Homo sapiens: one gene and its partners. The protein of the gene in region 3 interacts with the protein of the main gene of each other region in a pairwise test. Each region holds a gene or a part of one and is shown on either strand. Other genes may lie near its edges.

The links. Proteins that work in one complex are often made in the same cells at the same time.
Region 1: the proteins of LNX1 (region 3) and AIDA interact in binary tests that used the Homo sapiens proteins (3 or more experiments, as listed by UniProt).
Region 2: the proteins of LNX1 (region 3) and NXT2 interact in binary tests that used the Homo sapiens proteins (3 or more experiments, as listed by UniProt).

The regions. Positions count from the first base shown.
Region 1 is NC_000001.11:222,674,492-222,681,491, reverse strand, and holds part of AIDA (axin interactor, dorsalization-associated protein), read left to right. Parts: intron 1-5,273; coding exon 5,274-5,396; intron 5,397-7,000. UniProt on the Homo sapiens protein: Acts as a ventralizing factor during embryogenesis. Inhibits axin-mediated JNK activation by binding axin and disrupting axin homodimerization. This in turn antagonizes a Wnt/beta-catenin-independent dorsalization pathway activated by AXIN/JNK-signaling.
Region 2 is NC_000023.11:109,539,844-109,545,198, forward strand, and holds the end of NXT2 (NTF2-related export protein 2), read left to right. Parts: intron 1-1,631; coding exon 1,632-1,776; intron 1,777-2,663; coding exon 2,664-2,845; 3' UTR 2,846-4,855; downstream 4,856-5,355. UniProt on the Homo sapiens protein: Regulator of protein export for NES-containing proteins. Also plays a role in mRNA nuclear export.
Region 3 is NC_000004.12:53,581,380-53,588,533, forward strand, and holds part of LNX1 (E3 ubiquitin-protein ligase LNX), read right to left. Parts: intron 1-7,154.

The sequences.
Region 1 (7,000 bases), on a different chromosome or scaffold from region 3:
GAGTTTCACCATGTTGGCCAGGCTGATCTCAAACTCCTGACCTCAGGTAATCCACCCACCTTGGCCTCCCAAAGTGCTGGGATTACAGGTGTAAGCCACCATGCCCGGCCAATTTTCAAAACATTCTTGAGTGAACTGGTCTTTGTTGAATAAACTTAGCCATTTCTCTGATACCTAGAACCAGTTTTCATTTTATTTGTGAGAATTTTGATAGCAGCACTTCAGTGAAGAAAGCCATGAGTTGACAGTGTCAGCGTTTTCTGTTTGACACCACAGTGTACAGCCCAGGGCAGTTCCTCAGAGGTACACGTGAGGACAGGGCGTGAAATCCAGCTTGGCCTTTGCTTGTTTGGGGACTTCACAGCAGAAACAGTTTTCTTGAGTACACCATTCTTTATAGACCTTACAAATGCTATAGCATGTCATTTATTGGTAAAATTTTTAGACTCAATAGAGAAGCTTTTTTTTTATAGTTTATCACAAAACCTCTTCAGGATATGAAAAGTCATCTCTTGTGTCCACTTATTGCGCGGTTTGGGAATAGAGCCTTTTAAATTTCTTATACTATATCTTGTGCTAAAAACGTCTTGTAATTTCACATGCAGGCATTATGAGATCCTTGCCCACTGTGTGACTTTTCTTCCTCTGGGCATTAAGCTCTGCTACTAAGTAATTTCCTTTTTGAGCCTTTTTTAAGTGAACATTACTTTAGAAAAAAAAAAAGCTTTACTCTATTTTAAATGGCCATTAGGATATCAAAATAATCGGTGTCTTTACTTATCAATGGTTGTGACTTGTAGTTGCGATTTCTCGATTTTGTTGGATCCATTGCTGCATTGATAAAGTGTTTTTCACAGATGAGGCAACTTGGAAATTATCCATCCAGGTACAACCATATTAATAAGTAGGTCTCATCATTAAATGGACTTTTTTGTTTTTCCCAGTGCACTAGTGCAGTGAAATGATTCAGAAGCTTGAAATTCATTGTTTTTACTTAGGGAGAATTGTCTCTATGCTTAGGCTTAGAACCTTCCTCTCCTAGCTCATACCTCTTCTTTAGAAATCACATTGAATTGAAAAATTTCCTCCAGTTTTCTTTGCTACAAGTAGAGCATGTTTGCTTCAGCTGTTGGTGCATAAGGGAAGGTTGGGGCAGGTAAAGCTGAAGAGGCTGACGTCAGACTGCTGTATAGAGCTCATCAGCTACCAGTGGCTTCCCCTGTCTCCTGAAAAAAAAAATACTAAATGGACCAAGTCAAGTGAACATAATCTTAACTGCTTACTGCCATATGAGGCTCAAAGACCTATAATAAAATTGCTATAGGGGCTGCATAGTCTCTTTCCATCACTGTGAACCTGCATTGCTCAGTGTACAAAGCCCATTGCAGGGGCTGCAGATGGTGTAGTATTATCCTCGTATTTTATTGTCTTTAGTGCATATTTAAAGGCAGTGCATTGATAGAAATCACTCTTTTGCGTGGAGCTCCTAGCGAGTTCAGGGACACCCTGGGATTCCACAGAACCCAGGTTGAGAAATCTTGATTTAGACAGTTGTAGCCATACAGAGCTTTTCATATTTAGAAGTGTGAGGCAGAAATAATGCATCCCTTCCCAAAGATGTCCACATCCCAATCCTCAGAATCTGTGCATATGTTTCTTACATTACACGGCAACAGAGACTTTGCAGATGTGATTATGTGAAGGACCTTGAGATGGGGAGGTCATTTCACAGCTCCTGTGTAGGCTCTATGGACAATGAAGAAATGGCCAAATGAGGTGTGGTGGTTACAAGCATGGAATCCCGTGCCAAACTGCTATATGATTGTGGGCAGATTACTTAACTTTTCTGTCTTAGTTTTCACTTCTGAAAAAATGGGACACCTTGTTATAGGGTGCTATAGCACCTGTGTTATAGGGTTGTTGGGAGGATTAAATGAGTTAGTACATGTAAAGGATTAGAACAGTGCCTGGCACACCCTGACATGTTCTGTAAAAGTTGGCTGTTTATTATTTATGCAGCTTTTCCATATGGAAGAACATTTATTATTTCTGATCCTCACTTTAGATCTAACAGCAAATGATCTAGCTGGAAACACGCAGTTTTTCATGGCTCATGTATGATTTCTTTTCTTACTTCAGTTACAGTCTTCAAGTTTTATAAATGTAGTTACTTATTCTCATATTACTCTATACAGTTGAATGTGTTCATTCTTCTTTTAGAAATCTTGCTTTTAATACATTGCCTTGATTTTTAATTATTGTATGTTTTTATCTTTGATACACAAATATGTTAACTTTTTCATCTAACCCTGGAATGGTGTGGTATTATCCTAGTATTTTATCTTCTTTCGTGCATATTATATAAGGCAGTACATTGATATATGTTTTCAGGCCACATGTTTATAGAGCATAATAACCTCTAGAACTGTAAAATTCATTTATCATTCAACAAATGATAAAAGAGTTCTAAAACAAAGATCTCTTTATTACTAGTGAAAACAATACAAAAATGAACAGTTACTCATCCCGTCTTTCAGGATGCTCACCATGTAAGACAGAGCCAAAAAAAGTACATCATCATGGTTAGAGGTGGACACAGTATATTATGAGTGAACGAAAAAAGGACTGACAGAGTTTAGCAAAGGTAATCTAGCCAGAACTGAGACTCAAAGGGAGTGTAGGAGTTGACTAGGCAGGGAGAGAGCACATTAGAAACCACTGAGAAATACACCTTTCTCTATTACCTGTCGTCTTAATCACATAGCTTCAGCTGTTCCTTAGTAAAGATAAAACTACTGAACCTTCATGGTGGAGATGAAATGTTTTATGTTCTACCTTGAATTAGGGAAGAACTGAATAAATTAAGTATCTTTCCAGCTTGGAATCACTGCCTCCATATTACATTGTTAGAAATATATTTAGTAGTTAGATTAAACCTTATTATATTCTCAGGCAAAAAAAAAGTTTGTTGGTAAGGAAGAAAGAAATGTCAGCCTCATTATTTCAACTAAAAGATCTAGACAATTACAGGTTATGAAACTGATTCACCTAAAGGTAGAAGAATTTTTAATGTTTACTTGGGAGAAAATAGTCTATCATAAAAAGAACTTGTCTCTTTTGTCTGTCAGAAAACACCATAATCAAAATCAAAATGACAAACGACTAATATTCTTAATATATAAAGAAAATTTTAAGTTGTGACAACAAAGACCCCAAACACATTAGAAAATTGGGCAAAAGACATGAACAGATAGTACACACACACACACACACACACACACACACACACACCCCAAGATATACAAATAGCTCTTAAATGTATTAGAAGATACTCAACTTTACATATGATAAAAGACATGCAGATGCCTTATATGGCAGTTCCCTGTTGCTGAGACAACAGGGAAATGGGCTCATTTATCACTGGTGGGAATAGAAAGTGGTAATAGTCCCTTTAAAGGAGAGTTCAGCAATAGCTCAGCAACAACAAAAATATACAATTTTTCTTAGTTTAGCAATCCTGTTCCTAGGAATTTACTCTGAAGATACACCTCCAATAATGTGTAAAAAATTTTTTTTTAAATACTTACATATACACCAGGTTCTCTATTGAGGTGTTTTTGGTAATAGTAATATATTAGAAACAACCTAACTGCCATACGAAGATTGGCTGAATAAATAGCCAATACATGGACTATTACAGAAAATAATTAGGAAAATCTCCATGAACTATTGAGTGATTTTTTTTTTCAGAATATATTGTTAAATCAGCAAGATACATATATCAAGGTAATTCACATTAGCAGATTAAGGAGAAGAATCCCATGATCTCAAGAGATGCAGAAAAATTTTTCAATTACATTCTAATTTCTTTCATGATTTTAAAACTTTCTTAGCAGACCAAGAACAGAACATTCTTAATCTGATAAAAGGTAGCTGTAATGACATTTAGCGCCTCAGTCATATTTAATGATAAAATGGAAAGCTTTCCTTTTCAGATCAGGAACAAAACAAGGGTGCCTCCTGTTAACTATTTTCCTCAACAGTGCTTTAGAAGTTCTGGCCAGTGTACTAGTATAAGAAAAAGAAATAAAATATAAAAATTAGAGGGGGGGAAACCTGTCCCTTTATTTGCAGATGTTATGAATATGTATTTAGAACATGAAAGAGAACCTATGGATAAGTCATTAGTATTAATAAGAGAGTAGGGTTCCTGAGTATAAAATCTGTACATAAAAATCAGTTCTTCCTGCCAGCAGAGGTATTATTAAAAAATCGATCCTCTCTCTTTAAATAAGCAATAAGTGCTCAGAAAATGAAATATTATAACGTCTATAATAGTATCAGAAAATATCAAGTATCTTATAATAAACCCAACAAAAGAAGTATAAGACTTTTGTGAAGAAAAGAAAAAAATTCTATTGAGAAAATTAAGAAGTCTTTAAAAAGTTGAGAGATATCAGTTGATGGATTGGAAGAAGCAATTTCTAAAGATGTGGTTCTTTCTAAAATTGATCTAAACTTCATTGCAATTTCAACGGATGGGTTTTTTTTTGTTTGTTTTTTTTTGTGGTTTTTTTGCTTCAGTGTTCATAAGGAAAAGAATGGGAAATTAGACTGTAAAATTATTCCATTAAATACACAATTATTAAGTTGTAAATTATTTCCTATATCAATAGTAACTAGTGGCAAATGCCTGTAGTCCCTGGTACTCGGGAGGCTGAGGTGGGAGGATCGCTTGAACCTGGGAGGTCGAGGCTGCAGTGAGCTGTGATTGTGCCACTGCACTCCAGCCTGGGTGACAGAGTGAGACACTGTGTCAAAAAAAAAGTAAAGCATTTGTTGATCAACTCTGGTATTATATTTCTCAAATGTTAGGATAATATAACAAATATTTTTAAAGTTTTTTCTTCTACCACTTCATATTGAGATGAGAAGTATATTATATAAATGAGCATATACAAAGTGTATGTATGTGAGTTTATTATTAATTATGTGGTAATTTATAATTGGGCTTCCTGGAGTGACTTAAATTTCTGCCAGACTTGAATAATTTCTGCTTTAGTGGTGACTATGAGACATGGAAGTGCAGATTTCTCTTACATATAATTAAACATTTGGAAAAATAATGCCAAGCGTTTGGGAGTTTCGGGAACCAAAATAATGCCTGGCTAGTTACTAAGTCAGTTACAAGCAAGGCTGTATCTTCTCTGTGTTCATTAAAATGTTTACTGTGAAATGATATGGAGCTTTTATTGCTTTTTCTCTGTTGCCAGGTACTTTATTACCAAGGTTGCCATCGGAACCAGGAATGACATTACTCACTATCAGAATTGAGAAAATTGGTTTGAAAGATGCTGGGCAGTGCATCGATCCCTATATTACAGTTAGTGTAAAGGGTAAGTGACTCTGTTTACTTTTTTTTTCTCAGGTGAATTTTATAATGTTGCTTCTCATTTGGGACAGTTTTATTTTGGTGGTGGGGCGGGGAGTCTTATGTATGTGACAACTCATTTTAGTTCATTCTATCATGAGGCAAAGTCCCTGGAAGAGGTCATCACTTCTTCACAGAACACTTCTGAGAGATTTACTTATTTTCTTATTTATAACTTACATTGTTTTGCTTTTGAGTTTTTCTTTGTGTGTATCTTTTTATTCTTAACATCCCATCTGGGGTGCTGGCTACACATCTTTAACAGCAGATACATCCTTTAGGATACAGGTTAACAGAATGTCCCTCACCTTCCAAAGATGTGTAGGTTTGTTTGCAAAGCCCAGTGTTCTGTTTCCCGATTCCTCCTGCATTAGGCCTTCTCCTTCCTGTCCAAGAGAGAGGTCTACATTGGAGAGTCCTACAAAGGTGGATGAGAATCAGGCCTTAAGTGAATCATCAGTGAGGACAGGAAGCAAGGATAGATCCATAGTATGCATGCTCTGAATGTAATCCTATGGAGCATTCAACAAGTGAAGTATTTCTTATCCTTAACTATGTTACTGTGGTTAGGAAGCATGATTATTCTTAGGATTTGGTTTTTTTCTCCTATCCAGTGTGGCAGTTCATTTATTCCTTAAAAACAACATTTTCAGTCTTTCAAAGGGAAACCACATTGGTTGAATTCTTTTATTGTTGCCAAACATTTTATACAGTACTTTATTTATGAAGTAGTTAACAGTCTTTTAAAAATAATTATTGGGTGATTGAGAATGAAGTTGTCATACTCCTATCCAGAAACAACTGCACAGCTAATCCAAGTGGTTTACTTTAATCTGTAATTTGAGGCAAGTCAGAGAAACAGATAGGGGCTGAAATCAAATGAAGAGAACTTTTGTCAGTCATAGAAATAAATTCAGATTCAAAAGTTCATTAGTACCAATTAAAATAAAAAGGAATTCTGCCACAGAGAGGGATTATTTGGAGACCGTGATCCACAGCATTAATGCTGTGAAACTTTAACTTCTGATGTTATCAGGTATCAAATATATGGCCTACTGGAAAGTATATATACTCTACATTATAGTTTGATAGGTCATTTACAGAACTGCGTAACTCATGCAGGAATGTACACCAAAACAAAAAGATGTTTAATGATAGTGTAGTAACTGTTAAGTTACCTTTGCATACATGTTGAACTAAAACATGTTTTTGTAAATATCTTTAAGAACTGAAACAATCAATGTACTATATTGTTTTAAGTTCTCTAAGACAAATCTGTTGAATAATACATAAACACTTGAGTAGTCATTAAATGAGTCCATGTTGAATTTGATTAAACTGGAAGATTCCTGGGTCCAGGAAATTAAAACCATACACAATAACTTAGTGTTCTTTCTAGTTGGTATAAAACAGGTTGTTACAACAAATATAATGAGAATTTAGATAATATTTGTAAAAACGTATTCATTGATGGAAGGGTTTCATTGGCAATTTTCATGTCCATTTTTGGTCCTTTGACTTGAATACAGCAGGGGGATTCTGATAATGTTAGATTTAAAGGTCTTTCCA
Region 2 (5,355 bases), on a different chromosome or scaffold from region 3:
GTTTAATTAGATCCCATTTGTCAATTTTGGTTTTTATTGCCATTGCTTTTGGTGTTTTAGTCATGAACTCTTTGCCCATGCCTGTGTCCTGAATGATATTGCCTAGGTTTATGGTTTTGGGTGTTACGTTTAAGTGTTTAATCCATCTTGAGTTAATTTTTGTATAAAGTGTAAGGAAGGGGTCCAGTTTCAGTTTTCTGCATATGACTAGCCAGTTTTCCCAGCACCATTTATTAAATAGGGAATCCTTTCCCCATTGCTTGTTTTTGTCAGGTGAAAACCAATTTTTTAAGGCAAAAGATAAAAGAAGTTTCTTGTACTGATATTTGATGTCAGGGAAAAGGGTTGTGACAATGGATGTTTATTGTGCCTTGCCTTGAATGTGTATTGTACCTTACTGCTTTCAAAAAATAAAGTAGAAAAAAAAAGACAACATTGTTTATTACCAGTGTCAATATATGTGTTGACCTTTTTTTTTATTTTTATTTATTTATTTTTTTTTGAGATGGTGTCTCACTCTGTCACCCAGGTTGGAGTGCAGTGGCGCGATCTTGGCTAACTGCAACCTCTGCCTCCCGGGTTCAAGCGATTCTCCTGCCTCAGCCTCCCAAGTAGCTGGGATTACAGGCAACTGCCACCACGCCCGGCTAATTTTTGTAGTTTTAGTAGAGATGGGGTTTCACCATCTTGACCAGGCTGGTCTTGAACTCCTTACCTCATGATCCACCCGCCTCAGCCTCCCAAAGTGCTGGTATTATAGGCGTGAGCCACCATGCCTGCCTGGCCTTTTAACCCAAGTTACATTATAGAATTAAGCTAATAGTGTGTCTTGTGACCCCAGAGTTTTAACTGTGGAATTTCTGCCTCATTTGGGCCTTAACTTATTTGACTTATCGAAGTCTCTGCTTTAGCAAGTACTCATGATTCTTTTGAACTAAGTACACTAATAGAGTAGTACTATAGCCGAGCATGGTATGACATGCCTGTAACCCCAGCTACTTGGGAGGCTGAGGCAAGAGGATTTCTTGACCCCAAGAGTTTGAGACCAGCCTGAGGCAACAGAGCAGGACCCTGTCTCAATTTTTTTAAAAAACAGAATAATTTTTAAGAAAACATAAACCTCTTCTCTAAAAAGTGGGAGTAGTGAACTAATTCTTTCTAACACATGCAAATATTAAATGTTTCATATATATATATAGCCACTAGCATTAAAGGGTACAGGTAGGGCTTGATCAAAAACTTTGTTAATTCTCATAATTACAAAAGGAAGACACACTAAAACTGGCTTGGGGCTGCATTTGCTTGGAATTTGTGATCATTTAATTCATTTGAATACAGAAAGCAGAACTTAATTGGGTGGAAGGTTTTATTGTGTCTAAAGTGAAATATGAAAAAATATATTTTACTGCCTAGTTTATAAAGAGTAAGGTGATATTTATTTAAGGCCAAGATTATAAGACAGACGTTTTGTTCACATGGGTTTCCAGTGGAGATGGAGCAAGGGGAGTGGAGATGAAGGTAGAACTACAAAAAATGTTTATATACCATCTGTAATATTTTAATCCATTTCTATAAAATGTTTATCTAGAAACAGAATTATTTCCCTTTTTTAAATTTGTCTTTCTTTTTAGGCACTAACCAGGCTGTATCTGGACAAGGCCACCTTAATATGGAATGGAAATGCTGTTTCAGGGCTGGATGCCCTAAATAATTTTTTTGACACATTGCCTTCTAGTGAGTTCCAGGTCAATATGTTAGATTGCCAACCAGTTCATGGTAAGATCATGATCTTTCAAGATGCTTCCTTTGTTTTCCTCTAGTAAGCACTGAGCTTTTACACCAAAAGCAGCGAGAAACTTTTAGTGGTAGAACTATTTACTTACTTGAGCAAGTTAAATATTATGAAAAATGTAACTGTCCAGTCAAACTTTGGTCTTCCTTCAGATTCTTTCCACTAGTAGCTTTTGATGGATTATGTGATTTTGGCTTATTAAAAGTTGTATGAAAAGTTGAGATTAATGTGATTTTTGTAAATGGCAGGGAAAGATTATCTGATTTCTCTAAATAGTTGCCTGCTGGACCCTGAAATGTCTCCAGAGTAAAATTATACCATATCTCTGATTAATGTGTTCAGTATCTTACAATCTACTAATATTTCACAGAAATTTACTCTGTTATGTGAAAGGATGACTTTTTACAAGAAAATTTGATTCCAGGTAGATTGATACAGTTTAATAAAACCTCTAGGTGGGGTCCTAAGTGTCTTAAATTGTAGTTCAGGGTGATTTTTTTCCTTTATAATTCCTGAAAAGAACAATAGTTTAAGAAGCAAAGCATGAATAAGCTCTGTTAGAAACCTGAAATATTAATTCTGAAATATTTATATATATATGAAGCAAATGGTCCTATGCTAGATATAAGCTCCTCATTTTGAAACTAGAGTATCCCAAAGTTTTCTGGACTGAAAATAATTTTAATATCTTTTACTAAGTACTTAGTTTTCTGGGTTTGAGTATGCATGCTTAAGATTATGCTCAAGGGACAGAAAGTGTATGAAAAAAATTTTAAGCATTAGTCCATAAACAATGTATTTTAAGCCTGAAAATCTGCTTATTTAGAGATAGAAAATGATGTGTTCTCTTTTTTTTTTAATGTGGATGAAGAGCAAGCAACTCAGTCCCAAACTACAGTTCTTGTTGTGACCAGTGGAACTGTGAAGTTTGATGGAAACAAACAACATTTCTTCAACCAGAACTTCCTGCTGACTGCTCAGTCCACTCCCAACAATACTGTGTGGAAGATTGCAAGTGATTGCTTCCGTTTTCAAGATTGGTCTAGTAGTTAAAGGGGCAAAAGTCCATTCTCATTTGGTCCATTAGTTCCAGCAATTGAAATTTATGTGAATTATTTTGATTGTAGAAGCACTATAATATGTGCTGAAACTAAATTTCTTTAATATTTTCTATTCCTGTCAGCACCTTTTCTAGCAGCTGCCAGTTTGGAGCATTGCCCTCTAAGAGCTTTAAAACTATTTTTTTACATGCCTTATATACATTCCACTAATGACATTCTTATAATAATATTAAACACATGATCTTGGTACTAACATACTCACTGTGAACCCAGCCTATTGCAAAAATAAAATCTTTTTATAATATTATCTATGGGATGTCAGCACAATATAACACTCTGGGAAGAAGTGGAGTTTTTTGGTTATTAGGTTAATTTTCTAGTAAAACACGTTGCCTGTTTTCAGTTAACACTGGTAATGCCATTTTAATATATGGCTTTTTCAAATCAGTTCAGTGAAAATAGTACAGATTTAGGTTTACATAACTACTCTGACATACTGGAATTGCATATAGAGATGTTCAGTGGTCGTTTTTCATTTTAAGTAATTTTTGTTTTGGCATTTTTTTGTGTGAAGTAAATTAATCAACTAGAGAGGTGCAAAACGTTCTCAGTTGATATCTGAGTATTGGGTGCATTTGGTGGCTTAAAAGCAAAGCTTCCTAAAAAGATTTTTCTTGGCAGCTCCAGGTCTATACATTTAGGTAATGAATGGTAGTAGAACTAATAGCTTTAACAGGAGAATAGGGAATGAGAAATAGAAATCCAAGGCTGAAGCCAAAAGTAAGGAGGGTGGCCAAATGGTAAACTATTGGTACTTGTTTTCTACCTCCTAAAAATGTAGCTTATTTTTAGGATTTAAATCACTAAGTAAATAAGTATCCTTGCCAAGTGATCATGAGTGTCATTTTTGTTCTAAGACTAATATTTTTAGATCTTTTTACTTCACCTCATACTTATCACCAATGTATATCTCCATTTATTCAATAACTTACTGGGGTAAAATAACAGCAATAAACCTAACCTTTTAACAGGGTCTAACATGAGAGTTGGAGTCAAAGCCATTGTTATCTTTTGGTGACACCCTTAAATTTTAAGTCTTCCAGTCTTCCATGTGAACTTTAGGCCCAAAGTTTCTTATGTATCACACATCCCCCAAATAAGTGATTTTTTCCCAGTGCTTTGTACTGTCAACTGCATTATCTTTAATTATTTAAAGGTAGAATTATTTAATTTTGTGATTTGTTCTTCCATATGACATTGAGCAAATAGATCTGTTTCAAAATATGTTCCCGCTATGTGGATAACTCTTCTTTTTAAAAAGAAAATAGAGAATAGCAAATCTTCATGATAATCCTCAAAAGAACAAAATGCTTAACTTTATCTCTTAATTTCTAAAGGTAAATAACCTAGGTTCAGCTTTTGCTTAAACATTAAATATCTTTTCCATTTTTTAATGTTTGTAAGCTAGATATGCCAGCTTTGTTTCTACATTGCAACCAAAAACTGTTTCTTTTCACTTAATTATAAAACCAGTAATTCATTTACTCTTGCCCAAAACTATACACTGTATTTCTGTTATAGTAACAAAATAGAGTTATGTAGAATTGTATGGAACTCAAATTTAAACCATGCTTTCTTGTAGTACTGATTGAAACTTACACGTTTTATTCTACTCATAGTGAGCTTATTCTTATTTTGGATTGATTTTCCAAAACCACAGCTTCAGCAGCAACAATCAGAATGTCCAAATGCTGTCCTTTCCCTTACAGAGAAGAACAATGGTAACTAAAAGCTGCATATAACTAGCAATAACTACATTGAACGGTGTGCATTGTTCATGATTGTTGTGTTTTAAGACTTGTATATAAACTGCTTTTTCCAAACTCTGTATAACTTTTAAATGGCTGGAACTACTCGTATAAGGACTAGACTGTATTTTTGACATGCTCCTATTTTTGTAACTTGAAAAAATAAAATTTTGCCTTGTGACAGATTTTCTCAAGATTGTTTTAAGGTCTTTTGATTTTTGTTCTTAGGTTTCAGAATGGTTACTTGTTTCTTTACAATATAAGGTTTTTTAAATTTAGAAAAAAATTACAGTAGTGTGTTGACAACAATGGTTAACAACTTGGATCTTCTTTTGGTTCTTTCTGTAACCTGCCACATCTGTCTCCTTTTCCTGCCAATTATTCACATTCCTGAGATCATCACTTGTTTGAGATACCTGTAGGTTTTTGGTGAGAAGTTGGAAATCTTAACCTTGAGAAACCAGCTAAAATGCTATATTCGATAGGCAGTGAAACCAAAATACAGTTGATTTCCAGAAAGAATGGTTCATTAAATTTAATTCTACATTAAAAATATGTCAACACTACTGGGTAAATAACGAAATGAAGGCAGAAATAAAGATGTTCTTTGAAACCAATGAGAACAAAGACACAACATACCAGAATCTCTGGGACACATTTGAAGCAGTGTGTAGAGGGAAATTTATAGCACTAA
Region 3 (7,154 bases):
TTTCCTGGCTTTAAAGGAAACACACTCATCATTTTTTCCAAAAACCTTCCTCTTTGCTCACTGTATTAGTCCATTTTCATACTGCTATGAAGAAATTACCCAAGACTGGGTGATTTATAAAGAAAAAGAGGTTTAATGGACTCACAGTTCCATATGACTGAGGAAGCCTCACAATCATGGCGGAAGGTGAAGGAGGAGCAAAAACATGTCTAACATGGTGGCAGGCGAGAGAACATGTGCAGGGGAACCGCCCTTTATAAAACCAACATATCTCATGAGACTTACTCACTATCGCAAGAATAGCATGGGAAAAACCCGCCCCCATGATTCAATTACCTCCCCTTGCGTCCCTCCCACAACATGTGGGGATTATGGAAGCTACAATACAAGATGAGATTTGGGTGGGGACGCAGCCAAACCATATCACGCATCTTGTTTTTGATTGAGGAAATTGCCATGTTTGATCATTTCTCTTAACTAAGTGATGATCTTAAACAATTTCTAAATAACTTTAGCTTACTGATCTTGTCTTTATTTGAATACATTTTGATCTTTTGTTCATCATGGATTGTTTGCATTCATTTTGCATTTTTTTAAATATTGCATTCACATTAGGATTACTGAATTTTTCTGCACCTTAAATTTTGCACCTGAAGGTGAGTGTCTCACTTGCCTCACCTTAATTATGACCTTGTCACTGTTAATTTTAGAAACCTAAGAATATCAAAACTGTGGTTTGGATGCAGCTCTGCTACCAACTACTTTTTTGGATCTTGATATTTTCCTTTTACCTGACCTGGTGGCCAGCCAGCTACAATGACAAAACAGTAGAATTACAAACTCTTCCCAGGTGTGCCACTAAACTTCACCCAAGGTCAGAATTGATTGTTGCTTCAGCTGATTGTTACACTTGACAGAGACACACAGGTGAACAGTTTGCTGAAGGGTTCACAAGGCAAGAGGAATGACTCGCTTCAAAGAAGCAAAGAATGTAACCTAGGGCCAGGTCTCACAAAAGATCACAAAACGACCGGATCCTGTAAGAGCTTTGTTTCATGAGTACATAAGCGAGCCCAGTCAAGTAATAAAGAGTTCTCTCCAGCAAGGACACCACATGGAATGTGACATTTTACAAACAGTGTGAGGCTCTGCCCTACTGTATTCATGTTTGCTTTGAATTTTTGCACATTTAAAAGTTATTCAAAATATTTTACTCCCTTCAGCCAACCTCTTGTTTTACAGCATGTTTCAAACACACAAGGGCTAACTCTATATCAGATTATTTCTGAGGTTACTTTTAGCTTCAAGAAAATGAGCTTAAGATTTTTTGTTTTTTTGTTTTTTTTTTAATTGTTGATGATGCTTTAAAATTTGGATTAAGCTCCATGTGGCAGAATGGTTGCTTAGTTTCAAACTGGTCACTGGGGTGACAGCTCAGTGCAAAAATCACCATCACAGTCAGAAACACCATCCTGGACCACGAACAGCAGAAATATACCCACAGAGGAACCAAACAGACCAGCGCCTGCCACTTCTTCAAATGGTGGCCTCATCTCTCTTTCTAAAATAATTCACCCAGCAGGCATGTCTGCCTAACTACTGCCCTGGCCCTAGCTGTAACTCCTAAATCAGGTTACTGGGGGGAAAATAATTGCCAAAGTTAGGGCAAAGTCTATCTTTCTGTATTAAACAAAGTAAATGTACAATTACATTTTAAATTTTAGATAAATTTAGTAAGACTTGACAGGATCGATAATGTGCCATCAAACTCTTATGGCAATTTTATAAAGGCCAATTGTAAATGAACATACACAGAGGATGGGCAGTGTTCTGTGGGCTATTCCTTAGCTTACAGACTCTCATGTAATAGGGAAGAATTAGGAGCATTAATGACCTGGATAAAAATAGTCACACATGGAATAAAATTATCTTCAAACTAAGAACCTGGGTTGGAAGTTTGGGGTGATGTGTCTGTGTGTGCATGATGGGGGGCAAATACACTGCAGAGGAAAGAGTGGGGAGGCAGGTGCTTACAGGCTGCCGCCAAGGTCGTGGTTAGCTCTGCTTCTGCTTAATTTCTAAATCAATGATCTCGAAGAGGGACTAAGCCACTCATTAATGAATCTGTGAATGACATTAGCCTGTATAGTATTGCAAACACCCAAAAATACAGAAAAAAAAAACCCTTTTAAATGGTCTTTAAAGAGGTCAGAAACATGTCAAGAAATTACAGGAGAATTGAACTAAAGGGAGACCATGTAATACATCTGGAGTCAATAAAGGAGGACATAGATGTTCAGAATGTGGGAAAAACAAGGGAAGTGGTTAAGCGAAAAGAGTCCCAAGTGGCTAGACAATTAGACGCAAGTTTTAGAAGTCAGGGAATGCCTTTCATAAGCAGGTTAGAGAAGAGTGTTCCTTCTCTTGACGAGATTTTACCACCTTTCCCCTGGGGTGCCATACTTGGGTTTGTTTGTAAAAACTCTGTAACAGAAAAGATGTCCTTCCATTTCCTAGTCCATAAACATGATGAAATAGAACTGACCCCCTGCAAACAACAACAACAACAACAACAACAACAACAACAACAACAACGACAAATGAAGGCAGAGTATTTTTGCATTGATTCGGAGCTCTGTTCATGCTAGGAGTCACCAAGGATCCCGGGAAGAGCTGATATCAGAGGGGTATGGAAAAGAAGCAAACTGACATTCTTTCATCCAAAGCTGAAAAACAATTTCAAAAAGTGTTTATGTGTGTATGGTTTTTTTTCTGTTGTTGTTGTTTTTTTTAAAACAGATAACCAAGTTTTACAGAGGGAAGGACAAGATGAGGAAAGATATTTGAATTCTCAACATTTTCCGGCTGTGTTTCAATTCTACAGGGGTCATGGCTTTGCCTAATCCATGCCTGGGATTGGCCTTAAACTCTGTGGGAGTTCCTGTAGGGAATTCCATTTCATCTCCAATACATTTAAGTCTAATTATGAAAACAGAGTTTATCCACAGGAAAAAAAATGTAAAAACACTGCAAGAGAATACATAATACATGGCAATGTGTATAATGCCCCAAGACAGGAGCCATGGACAAGCTTTGGAGGAGAGACAATAGAGAGTGCATGTGGCCCAGAACAATCAAGGAAAGTTAATGGGATAGACGGTCCTTGGGAAGGATCACGAATGATAAATGCGATCTGGACAAGTGGGAAGTAATCCAGGTGAGAAGAACCTGAGCAAATGTGTCAATCAAGGAAGAGTAGTGATCTCTTGATGTGACCCATATGACGACCTCTATGTGAGGTTTTAAAATGATTTATTTAGAAGTCATAGGATTTTGATCGGTTAAGGAACTTAGATTTTCACCAAGTAGAAAAATCCTCTTTTCAAGATCCCTACAGCACCTACCAGCTTCTATCTGAAACACTTCCACTGATGGAGAACTGGTCAGTTTTTCAAATAGCTAGTGCTTCCCACGTTACTTTGACCTTTGGCCTTGTTCTGCCTTTCAGTGTAACGTATATCACATTTGCTTACTCAAAACATGACACACACATCCCCAAATTAAAGACAGCATTGGGTGGTTCCTCCCTTGTTTTTATCTTTGTCTTTGGTTCTTCCAATTGTCTTCCTGGGTAGTCCAGATGGTGGTAAAAGATCTACCCAGGATGCCTTCTAGTTTGTTAAGGTCCCTTTGAAAACCCGTACCTGGAAGTGAAGTTATCCTGTTTTGGTTTGGAGGACTCAGGATTCAGTGGAGTGATCACTTCCTTAACCAGGATACTATGTGTTTACTAATGCAATCTATGATGGTTTTTACTGTTTTGTCTTATTAGATATCTCACACTGTTGACTGGAAGAACTCAGTAGGCCTTTAGAGTACAAAACACTTACTACTGTGGCATGAACATAGAAATAAATGAAGGTAGTGATGATGGCTGCCAATTCTGACTCTCCTTGCCTGTACTTTGCTCAGTATTTCAGCCTCCAAGTGGACAAGAAATCTCTCCATAAGTAGTTGGAAGAGCTTGTGTATATGGTTGTCAGCTGGGGATACAGTGGGTAGAATGAGGGTCCCTGCAAAAGATATATCCATGTCTTAACCCCAGAACCTGTGACTATGACCTTACAGGAAAACGATCTAAGAAGGTGTCATGAGGTTTAGGATCTTGAGATGAGATCATTCTGGATTATCTGAGTGGGTCCTAAATTCAATGACAGATGTCCTTAGACACTTATAAGACAGGAGGAGAAGACACAAACGCAGAGGAGAAGGTGATGTGAGGAGAGAGGCAGAGATTGGAATTATGCACCCACAAGCTAAGGAATGTCTAGAGCTACTAGAAACTGAAAGAGACCAGAGAAGACCCTCTCCTGGAGCCTTCAGAGGAGTGTGGCCCTGCTGTTACCTTTATTTCAAACTTCCAGCCTCCAGAACTGTGAGACAATAAATGGGAGTTGTTTTAAGCCACCAAGTTTATGGGTATTTGTTATGGCAGCCCTAGAAATACAGGGGTTACATATTTCCAGGGGTATTCCTGCAGGAATGGGGTGAATGCTCCCAACGATCCTTTCCAACACTTCTCTATAGGGCTTAGAAATAGGGAAAAATATTTGGAGACAGCAGCCACATAGATTGCTACATATTTAGCAACTCTACCCTATTAGAAAATGTATTAATTTCCCTTTAATTCATTAATAAGTTAGAATACAGATGCTTTCAGAGATGACTGTTAGACTAAATTTGCAAAGGGCCTCAAGGGAAAAAAAAAAGGCCACAGATAGAATGGCTGAGTGTGTGTATGTTGTGGAAGATGTAATATAAGTCAGACAATCATATTTAATGAGGAGTCTGAAAACACATGGTGACTCATGTATTCATGCGAGTATGCAGGAGCCTAAACATGCTGCGCTCTATTCAGAAAAGGCCACGTGACTGTCAAAAGCAGTCATAAGCAAGTTATGCAAATCATCTCAGCAGATAGCAATGACATATTTAGACCTCCCCATCATGCATGTGCTATTGTGCCAAGAAGCTATTAAAGAAAATTCTTGGAGAGTTTCGACTCTGCTGCTGGTGAAGTCTTTTGTGTGCCTGTGACAAATGCGTCAAACACAAGAAGCAAATAAGAGTCACTTGAAAAAAATCATGGAGTCTAAGTCCACATATTCTAAGTCACAAATTAGTGATGTTACCAAAAATGTCCCCGGTTAATTGGGATAGAACTTGCTCCCACTGTTAGAAGTGTACTAGTCAGCCTACCATGCCAAGGAACTTGGCTTTCTAGAGCAGAGAGAAGTTCTTTCAGATGGATAGGTGAAGAAGGGCAAAGGCAAAGAGAACAAGAGTAAACAGATGATTGTAAAAACTGCAAATCTCAAATTGGTGGATCATCTTGTCTACCTTCTACCTGAGGCAGAAATTCTTTTTAGAATATAAAATAAAAAATAATGATTATTACTATTTAATGAGCAGTTTGCAATATGCAAGATACTGTGCTGGGTATTCAACATGTTTTTTCATTTAATCTAAAATAATCCTATGAGATCATTAAGGTAATCTTCACTTTACAGATGAGTGTATGTGCAGCTGAAAAACACAAATCCTCTTTGTCATTCATTTATTAATTCATTCACTCATCCAGCAAACATACACCATGCACTAAATATGCCAAAAAAAATGATCACCTTCAGTGACAAGAAACTCAGTATCCCAAAAGGCAACCTACTACATTTTCGGACAACTCTAATTCATAGAAAGTTCTTCCTCTTACTGATCTGAAGTGTGTATCTGTGTAACTAACCAAATAGGTCACTGTGGTGTCCTCATGTCACACAGAACAAAATGGAGGAAAGGGTAAACACAGAAAGTTTACGGGAGACAACAAACGTTTTCTGTTCCTGATTTCAGCTCAGTGTAGTTTTCCACATTTTATGGTTTTTTTATGGTTTTCATGTCAACCCTATTCTTTGGGGATAGTTAATGATTAAATCATATTAACCCAGGAACAGTGACACAGTCTTCCTTCCAAACAGTTTTGAAAAGCCTTTGATACTTTGGAGGCATTGTCAGAGGACAATAAATTTGCCAACCACATAAAAGAGAGTCTATGTAATGTCAGTACATAAATATTAGGAATAGTTGTATGCTACTGGGAAGTCCATGAATACTGAGGCAATGAGGAGGACACACTTTAGAGCATCTCTTATGTGTCCTCGCCTTGCCAGCATCTTACAGACGGCATTTCGAGTAGTCAAGATCGTATCCTGGTCAAGAGAGTGAAAGGAAAAAAAAAGTAGTCAAGATCCCACCAGACCCTATTTTCTCCACTTTAAGTGAGGAATTCAAATATAGAAAGGAAGTCTTAGCCAAGGTCTTGGAGACAAGGAGACAGTGACAGGTGAAGCCAGGAAATCACCGCTCCAGGAAGACCCGCTGTTTACTCACATCACAGAAGCCCACTCCCCACAGGTTTATGAAAGACCAGGCATTTCCACTGGCAGCCACTCTACCCTGGAACTCCAAGAGAAACAACACAATCTTTGTTAACAGGTTTTCCTCCTCTGCCTTTGGGAGCCTTTTGGGAAATCTTTTTTTGCTCAGTCTTTGGCCCTCAACGTACTACCGTTTCCATCATTATTACATCCAGATAGTAGCATGACCTAAGATGTCTAACTGTAAGCAATATAAAAATGTTTAAAATAATATAACAATAGTTAACACTCACTGAACATTTAAAATATGCCAGGCACTTTCCATGTAATTATTTCAATTATTCCTCCCAACAGCTCTGAGTCTGGGAAGTATTTCATTTCCCAGCTGATGAAACCAAAGCAAAGAAATATTAAGGAACTTATTTAGGCTAGCAACTACATGGTAGAACTGGGTCTGATACACAGACCTGTCTGATACTATCAACTATGCCTTCCTTTCAATATTTACAAGTAACACTGTGGCAGGTACCATTCCAAGCACTTTACACATTTCAACCCATTTCATCTTCATGATAACCCTATTACACAGCTGATGAGAGCAGCTTAAAGAATCTGTCCCAGGTCACACAGGTAGCACATGGTAGATCTGGGTTTCAAAAACCCAGGTAGGCAGCCTGATGCCAGAGACCAGACCACTATTCTAAAGCAGTAGCATTGCCCCAC